Linked DNA regions of Homo sapiens. The protein of the gene in region 2 purifies or fractionates together with the protein of the main gene of each other region. This does not show direct contact. Each region holds a gene or a part of one and is shown on either strand. Other genes may lie near its edges.

Evidence for each region.
Region 1: the proteins of CUL5 (region 2) and WSB1 purify together in Homo sapiens (affinity purification with mass spectrometry; 5 studies listed by BioGRID and IntAct, with this or other methods). This does not show direct contact.
Region 3: the proteins of CUL5 (region 2) and SPSB2 purify together in Homo sapiens (affinity purification with mass spectrometry; 6 studies listed by BioGRID and IntAct, with this or other methods). This does not show direct contact.
Region 4: the proteins of CUL5 (region 2) and PCMTD2 purify together in Homo sapiens (affinity purification with mass spectrometry; 5 studies listed by BioGRID and IntAct, with this or other methods). This does not show direct contact.

Annotation. Positions count from the first base shown.
Region 1 is NC_000017.11:27,296,888-27,304,723, forward strand, and holds part of WSB1 (WD repeat and SOCS box-containing protein 1), read left to right. Parts: intron 1-299; exon of another isoform or gene 300-421; intron 422-4,900; coding exon 4,901-5,069; intron 5,070-6,479; coding exon 6,480-6,748; intron 6,749-7,836. UniProt on the Homo sapiens protein: Probable substrate-recognition component of a SCF-like ECS (Elongin-Cullin-SOCS-box protein) E3 ubiquitin ligase complex which mediates the ubiquitination and subsequent proteasomal degradation of target proteins.
Region 2 is NC_000011.10:108,088,488-108,096,323, forward strand, and holds part of CUL5 (cullin-5), read left to right. Parts: intron 1-39; coding exon 40-172; intron 173-1,004; coding exon 1,005-1,136; intron 1,137-5,903; coding exon 5,904-6,027; intron 6,028-6,324; coding exon 6,325-6,500; intron 6,501-7,042; coding exon 7,043-7,204; intron 7,205-7,836. UniProt on the Homo sapiens protein: Core component of multiple cullin-5-RING E3 ubiquitin-protein ligase complexes (ECS complexes, also named CRL5 complexes), which mediate the ubiquitination and subsequent proteasomal degradation of target proteins.
Region 3 is NC_000012.12:6,870,005-6,877,540, forward strand, and holds SPSB2 (SPRY domain-containing SOCS box protein 2), read right to left. Parts: upstream 3,300-7,536; 5' UTR 3,242-3,299; exon of another isoform or gene 2,994-3,241; 5' UTR 2,898-2,993; coding exon 2,234-2,897; intron 1,316-2,233; coding exon 1,188-1,315; 3' UTR 931-1,187; downstream 1-930. Other genes in the region: TPI1 (triosephosphate isomerase), read left to right, coding at 45-132, 261-379. UniProt on the Homo sapiens protein: Substrate recognition component of a SCF-like ECS (Elongin BC-CUL2/5-SOCS-box protein) E3 ubiquitin-protein ligase complex which mediates the ubiquitination and subsequent proteasomal degradation of target proteins.
Region 4 is NC_000020.11:64,251,223-64,259,223, reverse strand, and holds the start of PCMTD2 (protein-L-isoaspartate O-methyltransferase domain-containing protein 2), read right to left. Parts: upstream 3,477-8,001; 5' UTR 3,354-3,476; intron 1-3,353. UniProt on the Homo sapiens protein: May act as a substrate recognition component of an ECS (Elongin BC-CUL5-SOCS-box protein) E3 ubiquitin ligase complex which mediates the ubiquitination and subsequent proteasomal degradation of target proteins.

The DNA.
Region 1 (7,836 bases), on a different chromosome or scaffold from region 2:
TGCTAGGTTTATAAAATTGTACCAGTATTTAATCTGAGCACTTAAATCATTTTATTAAAGTGCCAAAGGCAATTTGATATACCTGTTATCCAGCAAAGAAACACAAGGCAATTATTAGTAAATTTTAACAGATTAATGCATTTATTTGGTAGGTTTTATAATGGCTCTATTTCTTGAGTTTGTATATATTTGAGAATTATGTTATAAATATGTTATTATTTCATTGTCTTTGCTATCTATTTGAACCAATTTTTTAGTAATTGTTACCGCTCTTTTACTTTTTTTTTTGTTCCTTTGAGACTGAGTCTCGCTCCGTCGTCCAGGCTGGAGTGCAGTAGCGCAGTCTCAGCTTACTGCAACCTCCACCTCTCGGGATCAAGCAGTTCTCCTGCCTCACCCTCCCGAGTAGCTGGGATTACAGGTTCGTGCCACCACACCTGGCTGATTTTTTGTATTTTTAGTACAGATGGGGGGTTTCACCATGTTAGCCAAGCTGGTCTGGAACTCCTGACCTCAGGTGATTCACCCTCCTCGGCCTCCCAAAGTGCTGGGATTACAGGCGTGAGCCACTGCCCCCGGCCTACTCTTTTTTTTTTTTTAGACAGAGTCTTGCTCTATCACCCAAGCTGGAGTGCGGTTGTGAAATCTTGGCTTTCTGCAACCTCTGCCTCCTGGGCTCAAGCAATTCTCCCACCTCAGCCTGGTACTACAGGTGCATGCCACCACACTCGCTAATTTTTTAAATTTTTTGTAGAGATGAGGTCCCCTATCTATCCCAGGCTGGTCTCAAACTCATGGGCTCAAGTGATCCATCCACCTTGGCCTACCAAAGTGTTGGGATTACCAGTGTGCCTGTCCTATTACCACTATACACAAGGAGTTCCATGATTGTGGTCAAGGTAGAAGAAAAATATAGAGTAACCTTAAAATACAGTCTAGGCTGGGCACGGTGGCTCATGCGTGTAATCCCAGCACTTTGGGAGGCCGAGGTGGGCAGATCACCTGAGGTCAGGAGTTCAAGACCAGCCTGGCCAACATGGTGAAACTCCGTCTCTGCTAAAATATACAAAAGTTAGCTGGGCGTGGTGGTGGGCATCATGATGGTGCATACCTGTAATCTAAGCTACTCGGGAGGCTGAGGCAGGGAGAATTGCTTGAACCCGGGAGGCAGAGGTTGTAGTGAGCGGAGATCATGCCACTGCACTCCAGCCTGGGCAACAGAGCAAGCCTCCGTCTCAGAAAAAAAAAAAAAAAAAAAAAAAGTCACGTATGAAAAATTTAAGTCTTGCTTATGCTTGCTAAGGGAGAGCTTAATTTTAGTCTCATTTACTAGATGTTCTTGAAATTGAATGCAAGGGCTGTTCCTCGTATACAAGTTACATAAATATTCTCCATAGAGACTTTTAAGTTGAATTTTAAAACTTGCTTCCCTTATTTGTGAACTTAGCATTTTTTTCCTCCTAAAAATGCTTGTAAAATGTTTTTAAAATGCTTTAAAAATGTTTTCAAAGATAGATGTGGTTAAACAGGAATCCAAGTTAAAAAAAAAGTGTGCCTGATGCAGTGGGTCATGCCTTAATCTCACCGCTTTGGGAAACCAAGGTGGGAGGATCGTTTGAGGCCAGGAGCTGGAGACCAGCCTGGGTAACATAGCAAGACCCTGTCTATAAAAAATTGTTTTTTTGCCGGGTGCGGTGGCTCACACCTCTAATCTGAGCACTTTGGGAGGCCGAGGCGGGCGGGTCACAAGGTCAGTAGTTCGAGACCAGCCTGGCCAACATGGTGAAACCCCGTCTCTACTAAAAATACAAAAAATAATAATAATAATTAGCCAGGCATGGTGGTGCACGCCTGTAATCCCAGCTACTCGGGAGGCTGAGGCAGGAGAATTGCTTGAACCCAGGAGGCGGAGGTTACAGTGAGCCAAGATCAAGCCACTGCACTCCAGCCTGGGCGACAGAGCAAGACTGTCTTAAAAGGAAAAAAAAAAGTTTGTTTTTTGTTTTTGTTTTTTTCAGTTAGCCAAGTGTGGGGGCATGTGCCCGTAGTCCCTGCTACAGCTACTCAGGAGGTTGAGGCAGGAGGATCATTTAAGCCTACGAGTTTGCCTCTGCACTCCAGCCTTGGCAACAGAGCAAGACCCTGTCTAAAAAATTAAGCAGGCAGGGGTTGCAAATTCAGAGGCCAGGCATATAAAGAACCCTGGTAAAAGGAACAAATAAGGCTGTAGGTTTGGGAAAATTGTAAGGAAACCTGGAGCAGCATGCTCTTTCTGAAATCATTTGTATGTTAAAGGTATCTGCAGGCATTTGAGGGTCACCAAGTTTGTGAATTTTGTATTAAGAAAGTTATGTGGCTCACATCTGTAATCCCAGTACTTTGGGAGGCTGAAGGTGGGAGGATCACTTGAGCCCAGGAGTTTGAGACCAGCCTGGGCAACAAAAGGAACACCTACCTTTACAAAAATAAAAACATTAACCGGGTGTAGTGGTGCATGTCTGTGGTCCCAGCTACTTGGGAGGCTGAGGCAGGAGGATCGCCTGAGCCTGGGAGTTCAAGGCTACAGTGCGCAGTTATTGTGCTACTGCGCTCCAGCCTGCATGACAGAGCAAGACCTTGACTCAAAAAAACAAAGTTATGTGACGGCTAGTAAAGTTAATGTCATCTTATGCTGTGCTAATATGGGGTGGGTGGGGGACTCTGCTGCTTTGATTAAACCACACCTGAAGTATTGTGGTTAGTTCTGGGTGCCACTTTTATGAGGGCCAGTACTAACTAGAATTTATCCAGAAAAGTATGATGAAGTTAGGATGGGAAATGGACTTGAAACCATGTGATCTAAGGTATGATTGAAAGGATAGAGATCTCTTAGCCTGGTAAAAAAGATTCATTGATGGCTATCTTCAATATATAAATGCCATATGAGGATAGCAGCAGGCTTATTCTCTTAGGTCAGAATCAGTACTGAGTGGGTAGAGTGGTAGGAGGAAGATTTTGAGTCATTAAAAACGGTCTCAGTTGCACCAAAATAGTGTAAGCCTTATTATGAATATCATAGAAAAGTAGGTCTCAGGCTTTTTGTTTTTGCTTTCTAAACCACACCTATTTGTTAAGGTGTCAAGAATTGGGCAGATAACATATTTAAATCACTTTAGAATGGGAGCATAAATGTGTGCTTTCATATTCATTCCGTAAATATTTACTGAGCACCTGTCATATGCCAGGTGCTATACTAGCTGTTGATGGAGCATACATTCAGGCTGAAGAAGTACATTTTGGGGGTGGGTGTGTCCATGTCCAGGTTCTCTAGCTATATCAGTGTAAGGGGTTCTTATGTGAACAGCAATAACATAGAATATATTAAAGCTTAGGTGTTGGAAAGTTTAAACCAGAAATACATAAAAATATATTATTATACAGTGTACAATTGACCAGACAACTGACCACAAAATAGGTAATAGGGAAAATTAAGACCAACCCAAAATAGGTGATACACTGATAAAGAGGCTCCTTTCCCCAAATTGAGGAAATTGTAGCTGAGTTTGCATGCATGCATTGCAGTATGAGCTTGTTGATCATGCTTTTTGTTAAATATGGAAGTAATATTCTCCATATACTCTGGTAATATGCCAATTTTTGTTAGGAATACAAAATTTGAGTAATCTGAATTTAAAATATATGACATTGTCCATTTTTTGTCCTTAAAAACCAAAATAATTCCATTTTTGAGTCAGTTTGAGGCCTATTAGGAAGACTCTTAAGGACCAGTATTTGAGAATCACAAATATAATGCATTTTGGTTTTTTTTGTTTTTTTTTTTTTATGACAGTCTTGCTCTGTCACCCAGGCTGGAGTGCAGTGATGCAGTCTTGGCTCACTGCAGTCTCCACCTCCAAGATTCAAACAGTTCTTATGCTTCAGCCTTCCAAGAAGCTGGGATTACAGACACACTCCAGCATACCACCATGCCCGGCTATAATGCATTTTCTTTTATTTTAGCTTATTTTTTTTTTGAGATGGAGTCTCACTCTGTCGCCCAGGCTGGGGTGCAGTGGCACTTTCTTGGCTTACTGCAACTTCCGCCTCCTGGGTTCAGGCAATTCTCCTGCTTCATCCTGGGATTACAGGCGCCCACCACCACGCCCAGCTAATTTTTGTATTTTTAGTAGAGACAGGGTTTCAAACCATGTTGGCCAGGCTGGTCTCAAACTCCAGACCTCAAGTGATCCGCTTGTCTTGGCCTCCCAGAATGTTGGGATTACAGGTGTGAGCAACCACACGCGGCCTATAATGCCTTTTTAAAGCACTGGTTTGGAGGGTTGGACTAGACAACCTGTAAGTCTCTTCTAGTTCTGAGGGTTTTGTGATTTTTGTGACCTGGGCCTGAAAAGGGTAAAAATACTTGTTTGGATAGTGTATTTTGTAGTGCTTTCCTTTGAGTAATGGTGTAATATTGTATTTTATGGTGAGGTATGGTTTTTGAAAGCTAAGAAACTTAATTTGGAAGATACTTTTCCTGCCAACTAAGTTTAATTTCTTGCATTTTAAATGTTAATAATTTGATGAGAACGTAATACAATGCAAAAGTTAGGACTTTTGTAATTGTTAGGTCTAATTGGTCATTACATTATTATTGACCAGTTTTTTTTACGGAAACTTTCTTAAAAACTCTTGCATTGGGAAATTTTAGGGAAATCACTTTATCAAAACTTGGAGATAGTCATTATCGTTAAGGGGTCTTCATATACTGCATACCCCCCGTTAGAGGATGGAATGCAGAACTCACTATACCCTGTCTGCATAGAAGAGGGAAGAAACTCAATCCCAAAGTAATATGGAAGCAGTCTCACATGTATTGTTGGTTATATATGATATCCAGTATTTTTATTTTTCCTTTTAGTGAGATTACGTACTATAGGTGAACTTTTAGCTCCTGCAGCTCCTTTTGACAAGAAATGTGGTCGTGAAAATTGGACTGTTGCTTTTGCTCCAGATGGTTCATACTTTGCTTGGTCACAAGGACATCGCACAGTAAAGCTTGTTCCGTGGTCCCAGTGCCTTCAGAACTTGTAAGACTGTTACTTTTCTGTATTTTGTATCTGTTTGTGGAATTTACCATTTTCTCTCAGTGTAGGGTAATAAAAACATTTTGATATTTAAGTTTTACTTTATAGATGATGTCGTGAGTTTTAATCATGGGCTGAATATATTTATTGGAAATTTTGTGTAAAGAATTCTTTGGGCCGGGCGCGGCGGCTCAGGCCTATAATCCCAGCACTTTGGGAGGCCAAGGCAGGCAGATCACTTGAGGTCAGGAGTTTGATACCCGCCTGGCCAACATGGTGAAACCCCATCTCTACTGAAAATACAAGAACTAGCTGGGCGTGGTGTGGCACACCTGTAGTCCCAGCTACTCGGGAGGCTGAGGCAGAAGAATTGCTTGAACCCAGGAGCCGGAGGTTGTAGTGAGTCGAGATAGCACCACTGCACTCCAGCCTGGGTGACAGAGCCAAATAATGTCTCAAAAAAAAAAAAAAAAAAAGAATTGTCTGGTGTTATTTATACATTAAGTTTTTCTGTATGTTAAAAGTCAGATTGTGTCTAACAAGTGTATATATATATATAGTGTTGTGCCAGAGTAGGTGACTTCTGTGATGTGAAGCTTTTTGGATTCACTTTGGATTTTACATTTTGTTGGATAACCCTGGTGCATAGTAGTAGAGACAGGGGTTTCACCGTGTTGGCCAGGCTGGTCTCGAACTCCTGACTTTAGGTGATCCACCCTCCTCAGCCTCCCTAAGTGCTGGGATTACAGGCGTGAGCCACCGAGCCTGGCCCTTTGTTGTTGTTGTTGTTGTTTTTGTTTTTAATGGACTTATAGTCCCTCTGTTTGGGGTAAATTGAGTTTGGATGTTTGTTGAAAGTTTTTCTAAAATGTATCATGTGCTATATTGGATCTTTCCCTGTTTTTTTTGTGTCTAGCAGACCTTCATGGTTATAGTCACTAATGTTCTCATTACATATAACTTGAGGTCTGGAACCTATGGGAAACTGATCATTATGGTTTGAGGATTTTTTTCCCCCTTTAAGGCAATTTTCTGATATCAGCTTGACCATATCTTAAGTTACTGGGTTTTTTTGTTTGTTTGTTTGTTTTTTGCTTATTTATACTTGTGTTTTTAGGTTGAAGGAGCACCAGTTGATTCGGTGGTTTTGAGGAAAATTTGGGAGGCAAATAAGTTATAATATAAATTGCTTTATTGTTGAACTTACTACTCAGTCACTGAGAATTTCTATTAATGTCCTTCTCTCGTAGTTCAAATATCAACCTTTCCCTTCCTATCTATAGGATTCTATTGTTATTTGGTGTCATTATAATAATATTGAGGTTATTTTAACAAACACTTGTAATTATTCAATGTCCAGAGGAGTCCAGAGTGAATAATAATACAATTTCCATCTGACTTCCCCCACTCCAGTCTCTTGCATGGCACCAAGAATGTTACCAATTCAAGCAGTTTAAGATTGCCAAGACAAAATAGTGATGGTGGTCAGAAAAATAAGCCTCGTGAACATATTATAGACTGTGGAGATATAGTCTGGAGTCTTGCTTTTGGGTCATCAGTTCCAGAAAAACAGAGTCGCTGTGTAAATATAGAATGGCATCGCTTCAGATTTGGACAAGATCAGCTACTTCTTGCTACAGGGTTGAACAATGGGCGTATCAAAATATGGGATGTATATACAGGTATGGATTCATAGTTTTTAAAGCAAATGTATTATTTTATGATGCAGGGCACTGCTTATAGGCACTGGAATTGGGATTTGAGGATTTCAGCTTACTGAAAAGCAAGAATTGATGGCATAGGTGCGTCTTTATAATAGACCTGAATGTCACCTTCTTCAGCTCATGATTTTAATTTAGGAAAACTATGGAGTTCATATTGCTTCATCACTCTTTAGAGAGTATTACAGTAGGAAAGGGTTTTCCAGGGAATGTTTAGTTAGTTGTCCTTTATAAACTAGTTATTTAGTTAATGACTCACATGTCAAGGTGTTTTCTTTGTTTATGCTTTTTCAATGATTGATAGCTTAGAGGTTTTCGAGGTAAATCAGATTTCAGTAATCATCTCACCTTGGAAAGGTTTAGTGAAAGTTTAGATAGATTGAGAAGTTAAATTCTTTGGGCAACTAGAAATAAATGTGTTGCTTATTGCCTAAAACACTTTCTGGCATATAATATGTACTCAAAAACATAAAGGATTTTTAAAGAAGCATTAAAAGAACATGTACATTAGAACATAACAAGTGATACTAACATAGGTGATAATGAGTCAAAATTTGGGTTCTTGAAAAAAACAAGATGAACACATAGATTGTCTTAGAAAACAAAGCTCTTACATTATTAGTTAAATACATTTTTTTTCACTGGGATCATGTTTGAAAACTAAAGTTGTGGGATAACTTGTATCTTTTGAGGAGCTTAACATTCCTAGGCCAGGGAAATAACAAGCAAAGAAATAATTTGATTTTATATTTTAAAGTTCATGCCTGTAATTCCAGCACTTTGGGAGGCCAAAGCTGGGGGATCACTTGAGCCCAGGAGTTTTAGACCAGCCTGGGCAACATAGTGAGACTCCATCTCTCCAAAAAAAAAAAAAAAAAAAAAAAAAAAAAGGCCAGCCGTGGTGACTTGTAACTGTAGTTCCAACTATTTCGGAGGCTGAGGTAGGGGGATTGCTTGAACCCAGGAGGTCGAGGCTGTAGTGAGCCAAGATTACGCCATTGCACTCCAGCCTGAGTGACAGAGTGAGACCCTGTCTCAAGAAAAATAAG
Region 2 (7,836 bases):
AATCATTTTTCCATCAACTGCTTTTAATTTGTTTTTTAGGGTGGGATTAAAAACTCAGCCTGAATCAAAATGCCCTGAGCTGCTTGCCAATTACTGTGACATGTTGCTAAGAAAAACACCATTAAGCAAAAAACTAACCTCTGAAGAGATTGAAGCAAAGCTTAAAGAAGTGGTACATGAATTTTTTGTATTTCAACTTTTAAAATTACCTTACTTTGAATTTGTGTTTTGCTTATAGGACTTTCTGTGATAGTATCAATTTAAAAATGTATTATCTGTAAAGAACTAATGTTACGAAGATTTGCAGTGCAAGACCTCTCGGGGGGTTATTTTTCTTTCTGAAAATTTTTATTCTACAGCTTCTTGAAAGGAATACCATTTAATTCCTCTCCTTTCTTGGTTATTTTTAGGAATTAAGTTCTAGCTACTAATACAGGACATATCATTCCAACAAATTTGGAATGATAGTTGACAGATTGGGAGTTTTTCACTCCTTCCTTTTTGTGAGAGTCCAAGATAGATAGCAAGGGATGAATGAGAGTAGATTAAGTAGTTGTTTTCATCTTTGTCACCCAGTTGTTAGTGTAATGATGTAAGCCCAGGAATACAAACAAGAAAAAAAATAAGATATTGGGCAAGTGTAGACAGAAAGGCCGAGAGAGATGACTAGTGTCAGAAAAAAAAGTGAAAAAGATAAGTAGAAGAGACACTTTGCAGGGGGACATTGATTTTTTTCATGTAAAGTATATCGTTGCATTTTATACAAAATCTAAAAAACTGATATTTAGACCGACTAACAATTTGGTTATAGTCTCAGTTTTGCTAACCTTTAAAGTAGTGTATCAGGACTGGGTATTTCTCAGAGATGGATAATTCAGTAGGCCTCTATCTGTATATGCTCATAAAAGTTTCTGACTTGTGACAATTGGTGGATATAGAAAGGTCTAAATTCGAGAGATGGTAAGAGTATATAAGAACTGAAAGTAACTTTATTTTTCATACAGCTCTTGGTACTTAAGTATGTACAGAACAAAGATGTTTTTATGAGGTATCATAAAGCTCATTTGACACGACGTCTTATATTAGACATCTCTGCCGATAGTGAAATTGAAGAAAACATGGTAGAGTGGCTAAGAGTAAGTAAATTTTTTTAAATATTTGGTTTTCTAATACATTACATCATTTATATGTGTGCTTAAGTAATACATTTTGGAGATATTGTTAATGTCAAAGAAGTAGGAAACATTTTATAAGAATATAGCGTCAGTTAGGCCGGGCGCACTGGCTCATACCTGTAATCCCAGCACTTTGGGAGGCCGAGGCAGGTGGATCACCTGAAGTCAGGAGTTCAAGACTAGCCTGACCAACATGGCAAAACCGCGTCTCTACTAAAAATACAAAAATTAGCTGGATGTGCTGGTGCACTCCGGTAATTCCAGCTGCTTGGGAGGCTGAGGCAAGAGAATCACTTGAACCCAGGAGGTGGAGGTTGCAGTGAGCCAAGATCGTGCCATTGCACTCCAGCCTGGGTAACAGAGTGGGACTCCATTTCAAAAAAAAAAGAATATACCATCAATTATATAAAATAAAGTGATATCTAATAAATGTTCTTAATACTTTCAGTAAAGTATCTTTGTTCTTGAGTTGTTTCTACTGTTTCACTCCCATTTGTACCTCAACTCTCATTTAAACTGACCTTATTAATAAATAGACTACAGGGGCTGGGCACGGTGGCTCACACCTATAATCCCAGCACTTTGGGAGGCCAAGGCAGGTGGATCACAAGGTCAGGAGATCGAGACCATCCTGGCTAACACAGTGAAACCCAGTCTCTATTAAAAATACAAAAAAATTAACGAGGCGTGGTGGTGGGGGGCCTGTAGTCCCAGCTACTTGGGAGGCTGAGGCAGGAGAATGGCATGAACCCTGGGGGGCGGAGCTTGCAGTGAGCTGAAATCGAGCCACTGAACTCCAGCCTGGGTGACAGAGCAAGACTCCATCTCAAGAAAAATAAAATAAATAAATAGACTGCAGGACAAATTATTATATCTTTAAGGTATTTTCAGTACTAAATGCTTAACTTTAGAGATGTTTATAAATGATAACAATAAATACTTCTGTATAGCAAAAAGAACCTTTAAATGATGGCCTATTTAGGGTAATCAATGCTGATTATAACTAAATTCCCATATAAAGTATTTTGAGTTCTTTTTTTGTTTTAATTATTAAAGTAAATATCTTTAATTTCTGTGTATGTATATAACTCTCTCCACATATATATGGAGAGAGAGAGAGTGCGAGCAAGCACACACGAGAGAGACCTACAGATATTTTAACTTATAGCTAGCCCTTCGCATGGAACTTTAGGATAGTAAAAATTACTGTGCTAACTGAAACTGCTTAGTAGGAAAAAGAATGATTATTCTGTGACTTTTTAAAACTATTGTCAAAAGACTCAAAACTCTTACTGTCACTTATAAGTATATAGGAAAAAGGGGAAAATAGCAAAACTAATACATATTTACTACGAGAAACCTTTAGAATTAAATTTTCTTTCTTTCTTTCTTTTTTTCTTTTTTTTGGAGATGTAGTCTTGCTGTGTTACCCAGGCTGGATTGCAGTGGTGCAATCTTGACTCACTGAAACCTCTGTCTCCCAGATTCAAGCAATTCTCCTGTCTCAGCCTCCTAAGTAGCTGGGACTACAGGTTTGTGCCATGACGCCTGGCTAATTTTTGTATTTTTAGTAGAGACACGGTTTTGCATGTTGGCCAGGCTGGTCTTGAAATCCTGGTCTTAAGTGATCCGCCTGCCTCGGCCTCCCAAAGTACTGAGATTACAGGCGTGAGCCACCACACCCGGCCTATGTTATTTCTTTGTTAAAAAAAAAATATCAAGACCCAACAGTAAAATGACAAACAAGGCTAGGCATGGTGGCTCACACCTGTAATCCCAGCACTTTGGGAGGCTGAGGAGGGCAGATGGCTTGTGCTCAGAGTTTGAGATGAGCCTGGGCAACGTGGTGAAACCCCATCTCTACAAAAATTTAAAAAATTAGCTGGGTGTGATGGCATGCACCTTAGTCCCAGCTGCTTGGGAGGCTGAGGTGGGAGGATCGCCTGAGCCTGTGAGGTGGAGGTTGCATTGAACAGAGATCTTACCACTGTACTCCTGCCTGAGCAACAGAGTCAGATCCTGTCTCTCTCACTCACACACACACACACACACACACACACACACACACACGACAAATAATTAAAAGCAGGCAAAGGATTCGAATTGACATCTCTTCACAGAAGATAGACAGATGGCCAATAAGTGCATGCAAAGATACTCAACATCATTAGTCATTAGTGAAATGCAAGTGAAATGCTCAACATGTTGGCTCCTGCTTATCCCAAATATTTTGAAAGGCTGAGGTGGGAGGATTGCATGAAGCCAGGAGTTAGAAACTACCCTGGGCAAAATAACAATACTCCATGTCTACAAAAAATACAGAAATCAGCTAGGCATGGTGATGTGTGCCTGTGGTTCTAGCTACTCAGGAGGCTGAGATGGGATGATTGCTTGAGCCCAGAAGTTCAAAGTTGTAATGAGCTGAGATTGTGCCACTGCACTGCAGCCTGGGCAACAGAGTGAGACCCTTTCTCAAAAACAAAAAAAACACAAAGAGATACTACTTTATTCCCACTAGGGTAGCTAAAATAAAGACAGATGATAACAAATGCTAGTAAGGAAGAGGAGAAATTGGAACCTTCGTAAGTTGCTAGTGGAGACATAAGATGGTGCAGACACTTTGGAAAACTGTTGGGCAGTTCCTTAAAATGTTGAACGTAGAGCTGACCCAGCAATTTCACTCTTAGGTAATTCATTTGAAGAGAAATGAAAACATGTTTCATGTAAAAACTTGTAAACAAATGTTCATGGCAAGATTACTAATAATAGTCAAAAAGTGGAAACAACCCAAAATGTCAGTGAGCTAATGAATAAAATGTGATTTATCCATACAATGGAATATTTTTTGTGATAAAAAGGAATAAACTAATAATACATGCTGCAATATTAGGTGAACTTTGAAAACATAATGCTGAGTGAAAGAAGCCAATCCCAAAGACCATATCGTATGATTCCACTAATGTGAAGTGTCCAGAATAGGCAAATCCACAAATTCCAGGAGTTGGGGCCAGGAGGGGAAATGACGAGTGACTGTAAATAGTATGGGGTTTCTTTTTGGGGTGATGAAAATGTTCTAAAATTAGATAGTGGTGATGGTTGCACAGTTCTGTAGATATACTAAACTTCATTACACTGTATATTTTATTTTTATTTTTATTTTTTATATTTTTTTGAGACAGAGTCTCACTTTGTTGCCCAGGCTGGAGTGCAGTGGTGCGATCTTGGCTCACTGCAACTTCTGCCACCCAGGTTCAAGCGATTTTCCTGCCTCAGCCTCCTGAGTAGCTGGGATTACAGGCGCATGCCACCATGCCCAGCTAATTTTTGTATTTTTAGCAGAGATGGGTTTCACCATGTTAGCCAGGCTGGTCTTGAACTCCTGACCTCAGGTGATCCACCCGCCTCAGCCTCCCAAAGTGCTGGGATTACAGGCATGAGCCCAGCCAAATTGTATACTTTAAAATAGTAGATTTTATGGTAGATAAATTATCTGACACAGTAAAGCTGTTAATAAAGAGTAGTTTGAATAGCTTTTGCCTTCTTGTGTAACTTGACAGAGTAAGCATCTTTTCTTTGCCTTGGAGAGTTGTCACACCCCCTGTAATTTGGATGATCTTCTAGCATTTTATCTTTTGGGCTGTCAGTGTCATGAAATACTGAGAATTCCTTTATAGCATTTTTGCCAGGATCACTTCTTCTAGGGTATCTTATCTTTTTTGTCACTCACCACTTTTATCTTTTATGTTGGTAATTTGCTTTCACTAAGTTCCTCAACACTGGCATTGTCAGCCTTACTACCACAGTCAGCTTTCTTCTATAACTCCATTTATGTTCTATTTTATTTTCATTTCCAGCATTATCACTTTTCATTTCCTGTTTACTTTTATATCTTTGCCAATTATCTTGTTTGATTATTCTTTTTTGTAAGTAGTCATGTGGGTTTATTACTGGAAGACAAGGATGCAATGAAACTGCATACTTTGCTGTCTGCAGTTTAACTGAATAAACAAATGACTAATAGGTTGTGTTTACATTTTTTAAAAATTTATTTATTTAATTTTTTCAAGCAACAGGATCTTCTGTTGCCCAGGCTGGAGCGCAGTGACACAATCAGAGCTTAAACTCCTGGGCTCAAGCAATCCACCCACCTCAGCCTTCCGAGTAGCTGGGACTATCTCGGCAGTATGCCGCCATATCCTGCTAACTTTTAAAATTTTTTTGTAGTGATGGGGGTGTCACTGTGTTGCCCAGGCTGGTCTTAAAATCCTGGCTTCAAGTGATCCTCCTGCTTCAGCCTCCCAAAGTGCTAGGATTACACACCATGCCAACTAATAGATTTTGAAAGAAGTATTGTGGTTAGTCATTGTTACTTTTGTCATGATTTGTGGATCAAAGAGCTAGAAATAAAGTTTTTACTTCATGCAGTTAAATTTATTATATAGTGTCAACTGAAAGTTGAGCTTTGTTCTTGGGGAATTGGTATTATTTAACTGTACTGTGGTAACTGAAATTCATACATACTAAAAATGCGCAAAGCAGGGACCCCTTGTAATACCGTATTTTGTTTCTAAGTAGCAAATTTCATAGGTATTAGACAATAAAATTCTAATAAATGAGAAAAATTTTGTATTAAAACATTTAAGACTTAGTTTTTCTATTAAAATTTTTCCCAGTAATATATCAGATTATGTATTTATTACCTCTTCCTTCTTTGGTTTATATTTATAGGAAGTTGGTATGCCAGCGGATTATGTAAACAAGCTTGCTAGAATGTTTCAGGACATAAAAGTATCTGAAGATTTGAACCAAGCTTTTAAGGAAATGCACAAAAATAATAAATTGGCATTACCAGGTATTATTTTATAATTACATGTATATATTTTTTAAACTTAGAAGAATATCTTTGTTTTCCAGTAAATTAAAAATAAACCTCAGCAGTAATAGATCGAAAGATGTTATGAAGTCCATTTCCGTGGAGACAGCTATCAAAGCAGTGTGTTAGATTTACAGATCTTTATTTCAAAACAAAAGGACACTTTTAACAAAATCTTTATAGTCTTATTGATTTTTCACCCAAAGTTACCCTGTATTTATTTTGAATTTTATCCATTGTTAATTTACTTTATATTCCTGATATTCTTCTCTATAGCTGATTCAGTTAATATAAAAATTCTGAATGCTGGCGCCTGGTCAAGAAGTTCTGAGAAAGTCTTTGTCTCACTTCCTACTGAACTGGAGGACTTGATACCGGAAGTAGAAGAATTCTACAAAAAAAATCATAGTGGTAGAAAATTACATTGGCATCATCTCATGTCAAATGGAATTGTAAGTAGATAGTGTGTTAGTTATTTCAGCTTTCAGTTTGGATGAAAGTAGCAGGACTCCGCAGAATTGCTTAAACAAAATAGATTTTTGCCTCTCTCACATGTAAAAGTTTGAGCAGAAATAGTGAATTTTTTTCATGAAGTTGATAGGGACATAGGCTTCTGGTTATACCATCATACTTAAGATACTGCCGTTGTCTACAGAATTCAACATGATCCCAACTATCTCAGTATTCCTGGCAACAGAAAGCAAAAGGTGAGGGTAGCTTACACCTTTCATTAGGGACAACTTCTAGAAGTTTCCTCTGTCATTTTCCATTTGCATCCGCCAGTACTCAGTCACTTGGCCACATTTTGTTACATGGAAAGCTGGGAGATGAGCGTGTATTCTGGGCAGTCATTAACGTCTTCTAAAATGTTTATTACTGTGAAAGAGTGGATACTGGAAGACAGCAACCTTTTTCATATATAAATTCATGTCATAGATATTAAGAGAGAATCATCATGAGATTCTTTATTAAAAATCTGTTTTATCTATTATAGATAACATTTAAGAATGAAGTTGGTCAATATGATTTGGAGGTAACCACGTTTCAGCTCGCTGTATTGTTTGCATGGAACCAAAGACCCAGAGAGAAAATCAGCTTTGAAAATCTTAAGCTTGCAACTGAACTCCCTGATGCTGAACTTAGGAGGACTTTATGGGTTGGTTTATGTTTTTTTGTTTTTAAGACTGTATCCTCTCATGTAGCAGGAAATATATGATTGGCTTGTAATATATTAGTAAATTCATAACAGTTTCAGAATGTCTTATCAAGAAAAATAGAGGCCGGGCACAGTGGATCACGCCTGTAATCCCAGCACTTTGGAAGGCCGAGGTGGGCAGATCACTTGAGGTCAGGAGTTCGAGACCAGCCTAGCCAACATAGTGAAACCCCATCTCTACTAAAAATACAAAAATTAGCTGGGCGTGGTGGTGGGCGCCTGTAATCCCAGCTACTTGGGAGGCTGAGGCAGGAGAATCGCTTGAATTCAGGAGGTAGAGGTTGCAGTGAGCCAAGATTGCGCCACTACACTCCAGCCCAGGCAACAGAGTGAGAACTCCGTCTGAAAAAAAAAAAAAATTATGCACACACACACACACACGAGATATTTATGGAAAAAATAAATTGCAAATAGGCAAGTTACCAAGGCAGAGAAAAGTGCTTCAAAAAAAAGGAGAGGCTGGGGCAGTGGCTCATGGCTGTAATCCCAGCACTTTGGGAGGCCAAGGTGGGAGAAGAGGATTGCTTGAACTCAGGAGTTTGAGACTAGCTAGGCAACATAGTGCAATCCCA
Region 3 (7,536 bases), on a different chromosome or scaffold from region 2:
AGAGAGGCAGAAAAGGTCTTACTTAGGCCAGCTTCTTGTTCTAGGCCCAGGAAGTACACGAGAAGCTCCGAGGATGGCTGAAGTCCAACGTCTCTGATGCGGTGGCTCAGAGCACCCGTATCATTTATGGAGGTGAGTGGCTTTGGTTCCCGGCTGAGGTGGAGTGGGCTGAGGACTAGACTGAGCCCTCGGACATGGAGGTGGGGATGGGGCAGACTCATCCCATTCTTGACCAAGCCCTTGTTCTGCTCCCTTCCCAGGCTCTGTGACTGGGGCAACCTGCAAGGAGCTGGCCAGCCAGCCTGATGTGGATGGCTTCCTTGTGGGTGGTGCTTCCCTCAAGCCCGAATTCGTGGACATCATCAATGCCAAACAATGAGCCCCATCCATCTTCCCTACCCTTCCTGCCAAGCCAGGGACTAAGCAGCCCAGAAGCCCAGTAACTGCCCTTTCCCTGCATATGCTTCTGATGGTGTCATCTGCTCCTTCCTGTGGCCTCATCCAAACTGTATCTTCCTTTACTGTTTATATCTTCACCCTGTAATGGTTGGGACCAGGCCAATCCCTTCTCCACTTACTATAATGGTTGGAACTAAACGTCACCAAGGTGGCTTCTCCTTGGCTGAGAGATGGAAGGCGTGGTGGGATTTGCTCCTGGGTTCCCTAGGCCCTAGTGAGGGCAGAAGAGAAACCATCCTCTCCCTTCTTACACCGTGAGGCCAAGATCCCCTCAGAAGGCAGGAGTGCTGCCCTCTCCCATGGTGCCCGTGCCTCTGTGCTGTGTATGTGAACCACCCATGTGAGGGAATAAACCTGGCACTAGGTCTTGTGGTTTGTCTGCCTTCACTGGACTTGCCCAGATAATCTTCCTTTTTGAGGCAGCTATATAAATGATCATTTGTGCAAGAAAAAAAAAAAAACAAGAACAGGTTTCTATAACAACATCTCTTACTATTTTTACTTGAAAAAATGTTTTGCGTAGCAGACTGTCATAGCCTTGAACGCCGGCTCCCTTTCTTCCTCCCTCCAAGTGGCTCTGGGGCTGTTGATTTCCGCAGAGCTTGGGTTGGGGTAGGGGCTCAGCCTCACCAGCTTTCAGCAGCTGGTCTAGGCCAGCAGTGCCTCCCCACCTCCCCAAGGGGAGGGGTGGTGGCAAGACCTCAGCACAGTCTGTGGTATCACAGGGCTCACTGGTAGAGCAGGTAGCGCTTCATGGCAGGGGGCAAGGGCAGGGCAGACACCTGGCCGAGCCGGGTATCCCCCAGGTTGTGGCGCACACACAGGCGGCTCAGGTGCAGAAGGGAGTGTGGCTCCGCTGGGAGAGAGAAGGAGGGGAATGTAAGTATGGGTGCAGCCACCAGCCAGATGTCCTCAAACTACGGGGTCCTACTCAGATGCCTTTCTGCTTTCCTGCTTCGAGTGTGCCCACCTGGCTGAAAGGGGAATTTGAGATACCCGGAAGTTCTGCCTCCCAGATAAGATTTCACACATCCCTAGTCAGAGCTGGGGGTGAAGAGCTGGCTAAGGCCCTCTAAACAACAGGCCAAGGTGGCTCTGACAGTGGTGGAGCTGGCCCAGGCTTTGACTCCAGAGGCTTGGGAGCTGGGGCTGAGGTGAGGAGGGATGGCCCTCCACTCTACAGCCCACACAACTGCAGAGAGCAGCTCCAAGCCCTGGACCCAGTCAGTTCCTGGGGAGGCTCCTCCCCTGCTGCCCCACCCTAAGGCCCTGCCTCCTCCACTGCTCTCCTCCCTGGTGCCCAGGGCCCCAGTGTCTCCATCCAGAGGTGTGGCTGAGGAAGGAAGTAGGTATGTGGCACAGAGACAGGTTAGAGCCCAGGGAATCCGGTATACAGCCTGGGTACCTGGCTCTGCCCATCCTTCTTTTGGACCTGTACATCAAACCCAGTACCTAACGCTTTGCACCTCTTGCTCAGGGGTTGATATCTCCTGAATTCTCTCATCCCTGCAGTTCCTCCCTCCATTCTGAAGGTTCACCATTTACTGGCCAAGAGAACTTGAGAAAGTTGCTTTCTCAAGCCTGTTTCACCTCTATTGCTGTTGGGTTAAATTAAATAACAGCTGTGAAGACCCCTAGCCTTTCCCAGCACTGAACAGAGGTTGAGGCAGGCTGGATGAAGGTCCATCCCCTCTGCTCTTGTCAGAAGAGTTTCCATCCCAAACCACTGCCACCAGGGACAGAAAGTTCTCCCCACGTCTGCCCCAGGCCTCACCTCTCCTTTCGCCCAGGTAGCGGATGCGGACCTGGCACTGGCCCCAGACAGCGCTTACTGCCGGATAGAGGGTCCTGCCCTTCAGTCCGCGGAATGCTGGCCCCAGGTAGGTGCCCCCAATAGCGTAGCCCAGAGTTCCCTCCTCCATGTCCAGAACCACCAGCAGTCTCTCTGGCACCTCCAGCTGCTCACCCTGAGTTCCCGCTGGATACTGGGGGGCTCCGGGCCCCTTGCTCTGATGGTACAGCTTCCCCCGCCCGATGTCCCAGCCCCACGACTCGCTGTTGCTGCCCAGCAGCGCCGCGTAGTGGTCAGTCTGCAGCGGGGCGAGGGCCGTGGCCACGCCCACCACGGCATGCGTGCCCCTCTGCTCTAGGGGCCAGCTGATCTCCCAGGCGTGCAGGCCCCTTGAATAGCCCCTCTTACCCCGGGCCCCATCAGTGCTCTGGGCCACGGGCCGCCGCTCAAAGTACAACCCTCCTTCCTTGACCTCGATGTTCTCTGAACAGTCTTTGGGGTTCCAACCGTGGCGCCGCTGGGCCCCCAGGTCAGGAGGGGGTGCAGACAGCAGCTCTTCCAAGCCCTCGGGACAGGAGAGGTCAGGGTACAGGGCCTGTGGCGTGGGGGTGCTGCTGCTGCCCCCTGCCAGAGCTGTCTGGCCCATGGAGGTGAGGAGCTAGAGGACTCCCCGAAAGAGGCTTGCTGGGGCGTCTTTCTCTTCTGAAAGTTGAGCTCCAGTTTGGATTGACCTGGAAGGGAGCTGGGAGAAAAGGGGCGTGAAGAGCAGAATCCTGGCGGGGGCTCGTCACCCAGGTACCCCATCCTTTCACCCAAGTTTGCCAACGGGCCCGCTCCTCCCTCCTCGCTGCCCCAAAGCTCCTGGGCCCTTCATCTGCCCTCGCCCCATCTGATCCAGGTCGCCAGAGACTCTCGCGAGTTCGCCCCATTTGGGCCTCAGCATGGACCATCCCCCTTACTCGCCCGGAGCCCTCGCCGCTGCCCCCGAACCTCGGTTGACTTCCCAGCCCTGGAGGTCGCCGGGCCTCTGAAGGAGCCGGGCGGAAAGAAGCCGAGGCGCGCAGGGCGCAGACCGCCGGCCGCTTCCGCCCCCAGCTCCTCCCTTGGGCCGAGCCCGTCCCGCGGCCCCGCCCCTCCAGGGCCCTCTGGGGCTTAACCCTCTCATCGCCGCCCACGGCCGTGCAGCTCCGAGGCCACGCCCCTGTGGGGCCCCGCCCCCTCCTGGGCAGTTACCGCTCTATACCGGCAGCAGCCGCGGAGAGCATGCCCCGCCCCCGTGGAGCCCACCCCGGGCGGTTAACCTCGGGTCTCAGTCCCGGGCTGTGACCCTCCCCGAGGCCCCGCCCCCACGGCGAAGGCCCGGGGCAGTTAACCCTTCTCTTGCTGCGGCAGAGTCCGCACCCGGGCAGGCCCATCTCAGAATTAACGCTTTGATGGCATCACCGCGTCGGGAATCCCTGGGGATGGTGTTCTCCACCGTCAAGACCTTTGAGCCGCCTGAGCGACTAACTCCTGCGCCCCTGAGGGTAAGGAGCATGGGGTCAAGGAGGGGCTTCATTGTGCCGAATCCCATTTCTACTTCCCTGTGATTCTGGGTCACTGTTTCTGGGCTGGTCCCTTTCTGCCCCGGGTTGTGAGTCAGCCTGTGCCACCTCTGAGGCTGTGAAATCTGCTTCAGGCTCTAGGCTGTACGCATCATAGTTCTCCCTGCTGGTCCAGTCTTCATACTGGATGCCAATCCATTACTGAGCCGTTGATCTCATTTGGTAGAGTGTCCTGATTAAGACTTCGAGTTTGAGTGAAGCTATGCCACTAGTTAACTGCGCGATCTTGGGGAAGTTGCCCGATTTCTCTTTTTTTTTTTTTTGAGACAGGGTCTTGCTGTCACCAAGGCTAGAGTGCAGTGGCGCCATCACAGCCCACTGCAGCCTTGACCTCCTGGGCTCAAGTGATCCTCCTACCTCAGCCTCCCAAGTAGCTGGGACTACAGGCATGTGCTACCACACCCAGCTAATTTTTAAAAAAATATTTTTATTTTTATTTTTATTTTTTTCGAGACAGAGTCTTGCTCTTGTTGCCCAGGCTGGAGTGCAGCGGCACGATCTCGGCTCTCTGTAACCTCCATCTCCCAGGTTCAGGGGATTCTCCTGCCTCAGCCTCCTGAGTAGCTGGGATTACAGGCACCTGCCACCACGCCTAGCTATTTTTTGTATTTTTAGTAGACACAGGGTTTTGCCATGTTGGCCAGGCTGGTCTAGAACTCCTGACCTTGTGATCTGCCTGCCTTAGCCTCCCAAAGTGCTGAGATTACAGGTGTGAGCCACCACGTCCGGCCAAAAAAAAATTTTTTTTAGAGACAGGGTCTCCCAAAGTGCTGGGATTTCAGGCATGAGCCACTACGCCCAGCCCCAGATTTCTGTAGTTTTCTGTTATGTAAAATAGGAGCAATGATGGTAGTTACCTCACAGGGTTGTTGTGCAGTTGAAATAATCCAGGTAAAGCATGTAGCACAGAGCTGGGTACATAGTAGTCACTCACCAAGCATAGCTGTCAATGTGCTTAATGAGTGCCGACACTATAAGGAGGCAATATAATATAATGGCAAACATGCCAGCTGTGGGACCAGACTCCCCGGGCATGAATACCTGAAGGCCAGTGTGTGTATGACCTTGGGCAAATTACTGAACCTCCCTGTGCCTGTTTCTTCCTCTGTAAGACAGAGATCACATTAGTATCTATTGCATGGGGTTGGTAGTGAGAATCCAATGAGGTTATAGATGTAACACATTTGGAAGAGTTTCTGGTTCGCATTTAATGATTTGTGCTAAGCACTGGAGATTAAGCAGTGAATCCTTAAGGAGGTTACAAAGACTTTTATAAAATAATGTATCATGTAGTAATAGTAAATAAAATTATGGAGATATAAAGAAAGTACTATAGGAGTAAAAAGAATAGGACTCCTATCCGGGGTTCAAGCAGTTAGGAAAGGAGCATCTCCAAAAGAGGTTCACACCTGGGCTGAATCTTTTCATGTCCTAGAAGAGGTTCACACCTTCACACTGGGCTGAATCTTTCTCTTTTTTTTTTTGAGACGGAGTCTAAGCTCTGATGCCTAGGCTGGAGTGCAGTGGCGTGATCTCAGCTCACCTCTGCCTCCTGGGGTCAAGTGATTCTCCTGCCTCAGCCTCCCAAGTAGCTGGGACTACAAGCGTGCACCACCATGCCTGGCTAATTTTTGTATTTTTAGTAGAGACAGGGTTTCACTATGTTGCCCAGGCTGGCCTCGAACTCCTGACCTCGTGATCTGCCCGCCTCGGCCTCCCAAAGTGCTGGGGTTACCGGCATGAGCCACCGCGCCCAGCCTGGGCTGAATCTAAAAGGATGACCAGGAATTGGCCTGAGACGAGCCACTTCTCTGCAGTATGGAGGTTGGGTTACGGTTGCTGCATGTAGAAGATATTCCAGACAGAAGAGTCCGCATGAAAAAAAGCAAGAAGCAGCAGGTGGGTTTGGGGAAGTACGATATCTTCAAGGTTGCTACAGCCAGAAAGGAAGCATGAGAAGGGCCAGATAAGTAGACAGCAAGTCACAGAGGCCTTCTAGGCTGAGTTAAGGAATGCAAATGTTTTCCCATAGGACAGGCCAGTGATGGGGAGCCACTGTAGGATAGAAGAAGAGAGGAACATGGTCAGATAGGCATTTGATTTATTTATATATTTTGAGCCAGGGTCTCACTTTGTCACCCAGGCTGGAGTGGAGTAGCGTGATCACGACTCATGGCAGCCACAACCTCCTGAGCTCCGCTGATCCTCCTACCTCAGCCTCCTGAGTAGCTGGGACTACAGGTGCATACCGCCATGCCGAGCTAATTTATTTTTATTTTTTTAATTTACAAATTATTATTTCTTAATTTTTAAAATAGAGACAGAGTCTCAGTCTGTTGCCCAGGCTGGTCTCGAACTCCTGAGTCAAGCGATCCTCCTGCCTCAGCATCCCAAAGTACTGGGATTACAGGCGTGAGCCACTGTGCCTGGCCAGATCTGCATTTTAGAAAAACCACCCTGGCAGCAACATAGAGGAGCTTCAAGGGAAATAGAACTGGAAGTTGGCTGGGCGCGATGGCTCACACCTGTAATCCCAGCACTTTGGAAGGCTGAGATGGGCGAATCACCTGAGGTTTGGAGTTCGAGACCAGCCTGGCCAACATGGAGAAACCCTGTCTCTACTAAAAATACAAAATTAGCCGGGCATGGTGGAGCATGCCTGTAATCCCAGCTACTCAGGAGGTTGAGGCAGGAGAATTGCTTGAACCTGGGAGGTGGAGGTTGCGGTGAGCCGAGATCACGCCATTGCACTCCAGCCTGGGCAACAAGAGTGAAACTCTGTCTCAAAAAAAAAAAAAAAAAAGGACTGGAAGCAAAGACACCATTTCCAGCAGCCCAGGTGACAAGTGTCAACAGCCTGAAATAGGACAGTAGAAATAAGGATGAAAATAATTCAAGAAACACTGATGAAACGGCAAGATTTGGTGACTGATTAGATATGGAGTTGAGGCTGGGCACAGTGGCTCACGCCTGTAATCCCAGCACTTTGGGAGGCCGAGGCAGGCGGATCACCTGAGGTTGGGAGTTTGAGACCAGCCTGGCCAACATGGTGAAACCCTGTCTCTACTAAAAATACAAAAATTAGCTGTGTGTGGTGGTGGGCACCTGTAATCCCAGCTACTTCGGAGGGTGAAGCAGGAGAATTGCTTGAACCAGGGAGGTGGAGGCTGCAGTGAGCCGAGATGGCGCTACCGCACTCCAGCCTGGGCGACAGAGCAAGACTCCATCTCAAAAAAAAAAAAAAAAAAAAAAGAGAAAGGGAAGTTTCTAGCCTGGAAAAATTGATTGGAAGGTGGTGCCACCAATCAAGATGGAGATGACAGAAAGAGGAGTAATTGAGGGCAGGGGCAGGAGGGTGGGAGAGGGAGATGGTGAGTTCAGTTTAGGATATGTTTTTGAGGTGTCTGAGCCACAAGCAAATGGAACCATCCAGAACACACAAGAAAATGGCAGGTCTGGAGGCAGAATGAGAGGCCTGGGCTGGAGACAGGGATTTGGGAGGTGTGTCAGTCTTTAGTCAGGAGTTGAACTATGAGAATGAGTGAGTGAAATATGGGCGATGGGGACAAAGAGAGTGTGGAGCAACAGAAGGGTCAAGGAGAATAGAACAAGGTAGAAAATTCAGTTTTGATTACTTACAAGATTGTTTTGGTCAGAGGTCACTGGCAACCTTGGTGAGAG
Region 4 (8,001 bases), on a different chromosome or scaffold from region 2:
TCCCAAATTGAACGTACTGTGACAAATACCTTTTTCTAACAAATGCAAAATCAGCTTCCTGGCTAAAGTTTAAGTGTAGGAGGGGCTGCTACCAGAACTTCCTACAGCCCCTCCTCAATTGCATGATACGCAGCTTTCCCAGCTCTTTAAAAATAACAACTACTTGTCTTACCTTCTCCCAACCTGCCTTCAAGAAGAAAAAGCACAGCATGTGTCACCTCTGAGCCTAACTATTAAAATACAGGGTAGCTTCAGCTAATTCACAAGAAAACACTTTTTCACGCGGAGAAGTCTTACTCTTCTTAAAACTACAAAAATATCCTTTCCAATTTTATACTTACCCCATGTAACTTTTTCAAAGTAACTGCTTTAACTTCATATAAAATGGTAATGCTTTACAAAACACCAGATACAAATTGTCAGGGAAAAAGACCACCAGACCTCATGAAGACATTTTCTGAAATGAACACAACCTTTTTAACAACTTGTTATAATTATGATGAAGTTTATACTTGCTTTCCTCCTCACATTCCTCTGGATTTCTAACAGTAGAATGAGGATCGTAAAGAAATACTGTGGGGTGACAAGGGGCCTGGGGCGGATTTCATACACACCCACGTACACAACTGGAGACAGCGGTGGGAGGTTTTCCCAGGAATGAAAATAATCACATAGTTTCTTACAAGTGAACAAAAAGTGTGAAGGGTATAGCTTAACACAAATTCTCTTCTATTTTTATGGTGGAACACTCAATCTTCACACTCAAGATTTTAGAGCTGAATATTAGGTTTTGCAAATCAATAGGATGGTCCAGTCATTAAATTTTCACACCCTTTTTGAATTTTTTGAATTGTTTCGGAGCCCTTGTTAGATTACGGTCCACAGCCAGCTGACTTAGACTTAGATGGAATTAAGTCCTAATGAGGTCAACTTTAATCCTGGATAAGCCACTCAGTTCTGAGGCTGCACCCTAGCCTACCACAGTCATCTTAAAATTTGGGTCAGTGGTTAAAAGCGGAATCATGTGTTTGGATGCTTAAGGGTCTATTTAGGAAAAGAGCTGGAAAATCGCATACCGTCCTCAGTCAAAGCCACCTCTTCACCCAGAAGCCTGTATATAATGTTCCAACATTGTCTCAATGCCACATCTCTAGAAGGTAACCTCAAACTGTATGTTGGATAGGTTTCATTTTCCACTAAGTAACTATCACTTATTTTGAACTCTGCCTTAATTTGAAAGTTCAGACAGCTTTTTAGTAAAAACAAGCACCTTTTTCCAGGTACCACCTGCCAGTCATGGCCTCATTTACACTTCACAACATTAAGAAGCAAATTGGAGCTGGCCGGTTAATTTGTTCATGATCACATAGCCAGTTTGTGAGGAGGGGGCTGCATTCAAACCCAGGACTGTATGGCAAAAGGCCTGTGTTTTTAATACCACACCAGTGCAGCTTTTAAAAATACTCAAGACAGCAACGTTCTTTACCACACAACACACCGGTAACCTTTTGACGATGGGGTAACCCTATCTATACCTATTGCCACTGGTAGGATCCATGTGAATAGCTGTGGGGTCTGATATTTATTACCATCTTTGTCTGGTAATCTAACACTCCCTCGCACTGAAAACCATCGATATGATCAGTCATGATGTCACCAAAAACACCGACAACAAAGCTCTTCGCCAAACCAAATCCTATCATTTTCACCCAGATTCTACAATCTGGTCAAATCCAATTTTTCAAAGTAAAAGTGTAGAATCATTTTTAGAACGCTGCACTCGATGATACTGTGCACATTGTCTGCTGTAATTAATCCTTAATATAATTCACTACTCTGTGGTAACTAGCAACAGTCCATAACAACCTGGCTGCTCCTTACAATGCGAACTGCCAGGGCACATGAAGAACACTTGCTGAGTGGCGACAGGCATGGGAAGGTCTCAGAACTGACACCTGAGTTGTGATTGTGGCTGTGTCAACACAAGCATGAAGCTATGGTAGTGGGGTTTTGGGAGGCGACATACGGAAGATCACATTCCAACTTGGATGTCACTTCTTTAGGGTAATATGGACAAAGTAATTCATTGTGGAAGATGAGTGGGGAAAAGGACCCAAAGCCACATCTCCTTTGGGCAGAATGATCAAACAAACACACAAACAGATTTCTCACCTTGAAAACCAGAACTCTTACAAGCAATGCAAAGGGACTTTTTTCAAATACAGATGGTCTCCGACTTCGGATGGTTCGACTTCAGGTTTAACGATGTGTTTACTGGGATGCGACCCCACCGTAAGCCGGGGAGCACCTATACTTGAAAGGCTGTCACATGTACACTATTAATGGGCCTAACAAAAGCCAGACCAGTGGTACATGTTGGAGACAATGCCTACTAAATACACAGAGAAGCTTTCTAACAAATGAAGTTGCAATGAATGAAAGGAGCTCTTGATAAGCCCAGCCAAGTTCCACTGGAGGTACGAGCTGGGGTGGCGCAGGGAGCAAGGCCCTGGATCGGTCACCTCTGAGGTCTCCTCTCATCACCTGAGTGTAGGGCTCTATTTCCCCCAAGCGTGGCCACAACAATTTCTGAGTTGCTTATAGGCACCTCAACTTCACTCATTCTTGAATGACAGTCTATCAAACGCCCAGATAGGAGCTGTTTAGCCATTCCCTTGAGAAGAAAAATGAAAACTATTCTAGTCACACGAGTAAAGAGGGGGTGGATAAAGAGGGCGTGGATATTTAGGTGACTTATTTGAGGTGCAACGCTGGAGCAAACATTCATTTAGGAGACACGTCCCTCTCACAAAAACAAAACAAAGGCCCGAAGCTCAGGCAAGTTCTCCTTCCTCCAACTAACAAAGATCTCTTTCCATGCGTGAATTGAAGTCCCAGTGCTCTGCTCCAATTCTTACTATCTCCAAGGCACGGGGCGGGGGGGCGCAATTATTTTTTTAAAAAATCCTGTCATCTTCTGAAAGGGTCCAAGGCAGACTTTGTTCTAAACCTTAGCTCTTGGCTTGCCTTGGAACTGCAAACGTTTCCCACTTGGGAAGTCAAAGACAAGCTGCAGGTCTGGACTAACCAGACCCAAGAGTGTGAGTGAGCAACGGGCACCGGGAGAGACCGACGGGAAACCGCGAGCGCTCGGAGAGAGAAACGCGGGACGCCCTGGAGGCCGCTGGGGGGAGGTGAGGGTGCCCGAGGTGGGGAGGAGCGACGCCCCCAGAGGAGAGCTCCGGGCGCAGGGGTGCCGGGGGTGGGGAAGGAGGAGGGAAGGGGCCGAGGGGACACACCACCCGCTCGCCGCAGGCCGGACCGAGGGGCGGCGGCGGCGGCGGCGGCTCTACCTCCAGGCTCGGCCGGCCGACGGGTTCGGACCGCCTGGGCTGCCACCTGCAGCTCCTCGGGCGCGTCCCTCGTGTGTCCGCGGCCGAGCAGCGCCGCTCCAACCTCGGCCGCCGTAAACATCCGCCGCCGCCGCCGCCGCCGCCGCCTCTGCGCCTGCGCACAACGGCCTGACTGCGCATGCGCCGCGGGCCTGGCACTTAAAGGGGTGATGGCGGCGCAGGGCGGGCCCCACTCCCCTGGGCTGCCTGCGTCCGCCCGCCCCGCTGAGAGCTCGCTGAGCCCTAGGCCGGGTCCGAGTCTCGCGGGCGCGCCGTCCGCGCAGTGCTCAGCCAGGACGGACCCCGCACGGGCTGCCTCAGAAGCCCTCCCTAAGGGTCACCTGAGACGCCTTTGCTGACCCACGGCTGGGGGCGTTCCGCATCTCCAGGGTGCCCTGCGGCTGCTGACTCGGGGCCGGCGCTGCCCTCGGGCGGCCTCCCAGCACCAAGCACAGCCGCCCTGGGACCCCCGCCCTGCCACGCGGACGGCCACCCGGCCCTGGGGCCCTCCTACCCAGCCGGCTTTGTGAAATCAGCTGTGAAAGGAAGATATCCTGGGCCCCCAAGATCACTAAGGAAAACTCCAGCAGGAAACTGCTTAGGGCAGGCCTGCTTCCCATTCCATTCAAAGTCACTCCTCTGCTCACTTAGATAGATACATATCTGATTTGCCTCCTTTGAAAAGGCAAATGAGAAACTCAAAAGAATTTAACCGTTGGTGTCTCACCTATCTGTGGCCTGGACGCTCCCTCCCCGCTTGGAGTCTTCCTGCCTTTGCTTCAAGTTGTCCCGTCTTTCCAGACCGAACCGATGTGCTTCTTACATGTATCGATGGATGTATCCTGTCTCCCTAAATGTATAAAACCAAGCTGTGCCCCGACCACCTTGGGCACATGTCAGGACTTCCTGAGGCTGTGTCACGGGCGCGTCCTCACCCTTGGCAAAATAAACTTTGTAAATTAACTGAGACCTGTCTCCCATTTTCTGGGTTCACACAGCCCATTGCCCAAACTTCGCGTGGGGCTTTGCAGATAGGCTGTAGCTGCAGAACCCTTTCTTCAAGCACAGCCATGCAAGCCGCCTCATATGTGCAAGTGCCAGCGTCGCTGGGGCGGACGAGTGGGCCTGGGTCTCCGGTTCCCGCCTCCCTCCTAACTCGGCATTCCTCCCCAGACCCTGGAGCTCCACTTAGGAGCAGAGTTTGAAAACCAAAGGCCGGTGCCTTCACCACGTTATGTGGTCCCAGGGAGACCTCACTTCTCTTGTTGATCCATGGTCCTGGATCCACGGACCTGAGGTGGCCCACCACCTCATGACCTTCATGGGGCTCTCAGTGTCCTTCCACCTGAGAGCTTGTGGTTATTTGTGACTGTTTCAAATTACAGAAGCCCTGGAGTCATCCTTGACTCTCTTCCTACTGCCAGGGGACACGTCCTCCATACATCCCTCCTTGCCCTGTCCCAGCTCCCCTCACCTCTCCCCACCCCTCCCACCATTCCCCTGGGCTCTGGCGAGTGGTCCTCCTAAAACAGGTGATCACATCACTGCTGTCTTCAGACACTCCCTTTGTTCCTGGACCCAACTGAGGGTCGGGCTACTACTTCTCCTGGCCCAATAACAAGATGCAAATGAGCTGGAGAGTAAGAGAGGTTTTATTTCTGTAACCGGTTACAAGGAGAAGGCCTGGAAATTATCACCATACCAACTCAAAATTACAAAGTTTTCCAAAGCTCGTATACCTTCTAAGCTGTATGTCTACATGTAAGTGTGCATTCATCTACAGACATAAGTGATTAACTTCTTTTAATCTATGACTAAGGTTGAGTCCTGAAGACCCTCTTCTGGAGCCTCAGTAAGTTTACTTAATCTAAATGGGTCTAGGTGCTGGGGTGATTACCCTTATCTTGTCTCCTGCTAAATCATAATGATATGGGGAATTCCTTTAGACCCCCATAAACTTGTTTGTGGAGGCCTGGGGAGTTTCTTCAGATCCCTAATACAACTTGTTTAATCCTAAAAAGGGTCCTGTTAAGAGTTCCTTCGTTATCTTGTCATGCTTCAAGGCCCAGGAAGAGCCTAGGCAAAACTCTTGGTGGGCTCTTTGTTACATTCCAACCTTTGTATAAGGGCATTGGCTCAATCAGCTTTTAATGTTTAACCTGGCTACTCAGTCCGTGCTGGGACAGCTGTAATGGAGGCCTGCGTTAGTGAGACCCGGCCTGCCACAACTTCAGACTCTTGCTTGGTTTTCCAAGGTGTCTCCACCATTCCCCTCCACATCAGCTTCCACTACCATCAGCATTCATAACCCTTCACAGGGTATATACTGAGCACTCTACATGGGTTATTTCCATGAAATAGGTACTAGTATGACCTCCAAGAAGAAAAGTGGACCGTGACATCAGGAGCTGGCCTGGCACTCAGATCGAGGCCATGGGGTCTCCTGTTGGACATAAATAATTTTGTAGAGGAGCACCATCATGATCCAAGGCCACGTCATAATTTTGTCTAAGCACAAACAAAAACAGGGTAACTGTGCCACCCACAAAATCTAAGACATATCATCTCCAAGTTAGTAACAATGACCCCCGCTCCTCTACCAGCTACAGCTGAGCCTCCCTCTGCCCTGGCCTCCTCACAGATAACATCTACTGAGATGCCCAGAGAACCACCCTTTCCCCCCATCCACTCCCCCAATTCCTGACAGCATCTAATCCATGAAAAAAATCACCCAACTCAAGCCCATAACCTTTAGTAACTTTTCCCGACACCTCTTACTGAGATGCCTTGCAGTTCTCCATGATCTGCATCCCTCTCGCTGCAATGAGTGATAATCCCAACTCATTCAATTACAGGCAGGTTCCTGGCAGCCTTTGGCTTGACGACACTGATACCTCCATTTTACAGATGAGGGAACTGAAACTGCAAGAGGTTCGCTGGCTTCTTGTACTTACCAGCTAGTAGTAAGCACAGGAAGGTGGATGGGAATCCAACTGCTGCTGTCACCCTCCTCCAGGCTTCTCCCACACCCAGCCACGGGGAGCTTTCTGAGTATGTCTTCAGTGTCCCCTCGCCTATCCCCTTGCATCTCTCCACTCATCTGTGTTGTATCTGCAGGAGGAGCCTCGGACGGAGGGAAGGTCATGCAAGGGCCTGAGGCAGGGGTGCGGCTGGGTATCTGGGGAGCAAGTAGCTAGAGCCACATGTGGGAGGTTGTGTTGTTGTCTTCGAAATACACTATTCTTACTATGGTAAAGTATACAAAACATTTATCATTTGAACCATTTTTAAGTGTACATGAAGTACATTTACACTATTGTGCAACCTCACTACTATCCAGCTCCACATTTTTTTCATCATGCCTAACTGCAACTCCATACCCATTCGTGTTAAAAATTCTCACCCAGCTGGCTGAGCACAGTGGCTCACACCTGTCATCCCAGCACTTTGGGAGGCCGAGGCGGGCGGATCACGAGGTCAGGAGATTGAGACCATCCTGACCAACATGGCGAAACCCCGTCTCCACTAAAAATACAAACATTAGCCGGTCATGGTGGCACATGCCTGTAATCCCAGCTACTTGGGAGGCTGAGGCAGGAGAATAGTTTAAACCAGGGAGTCGGCGGTTGCAGTGAGCCGAGATCGCACCACTGCACTCCAGCCTGGGCGACAGAGTGAGACTCCATCTCAAAAAAAAAAAAAAAAAAATTCTCACCCAGCTAGTAATAGAGAGAGGGGCATTTCCTCAACTTGATAAAGAACATCTACAGAAAACCAACAGCTAATATCATACTTAATGGTGAGAAAGTGGACCCTTTCTCCTTAAGATCAGGAACAAGGCAGGAATGTCCCCTCTCACTACTTCTGTTCAACATCATATAGAAGTCCTAGCTGATGCAATAAGACTTGAAAATAAGGGTTACAGATTTAGAAGGAAGAAATAAAACTGTCTTTTTGCACAGGTGGTAAGATTAACTGTGTATTATACCCTGAAGAATCTCCAATAAAACTCCAGAAACTAATAACTGACTACAGCAAGGTTGCTGGATACAGCAGTCCCCCCCCTTATCCTTAGGGGATATGTTCTAAGACACTGTTGGGGATATGTACCAAACTCTATAGTACATATAGGAATGCTTGAAACCAGGGATGGAATCAAACCCTATATATACTATGTTTTTTCCTACATATGGATCATCTATGATAAAGTTTAATTTATAAATTAGGCATAGCAAGAGATTAACAACAATAACTAATAATAAAATCGAACAACTATAACAATATATTGTAATAAAAGTTACATGAGTGTGGTCTCTCTGTTAGCTACTAAGTGATTAATGGGCAGGTAGTGTATATGGCATGGATATGCTGAACAGAAAGGTGGCACACGTACTGGGTAGCATGGAGCAGGACGGCACGAGATTTCATCACACTACTCAGAATAGCACATGATTTACAATTTATGAATTATTTCTGTAATTTTCCAATTAATGTTTTTGAATTGTGGTTGACTGCAGGTAACTGAAACCATGGAAAGCAAAACCACAGATGGGGGACTACTATGTAAGGTTATAAACAAAAGCCAGTTGCTTTCCTATATACCAGCAAT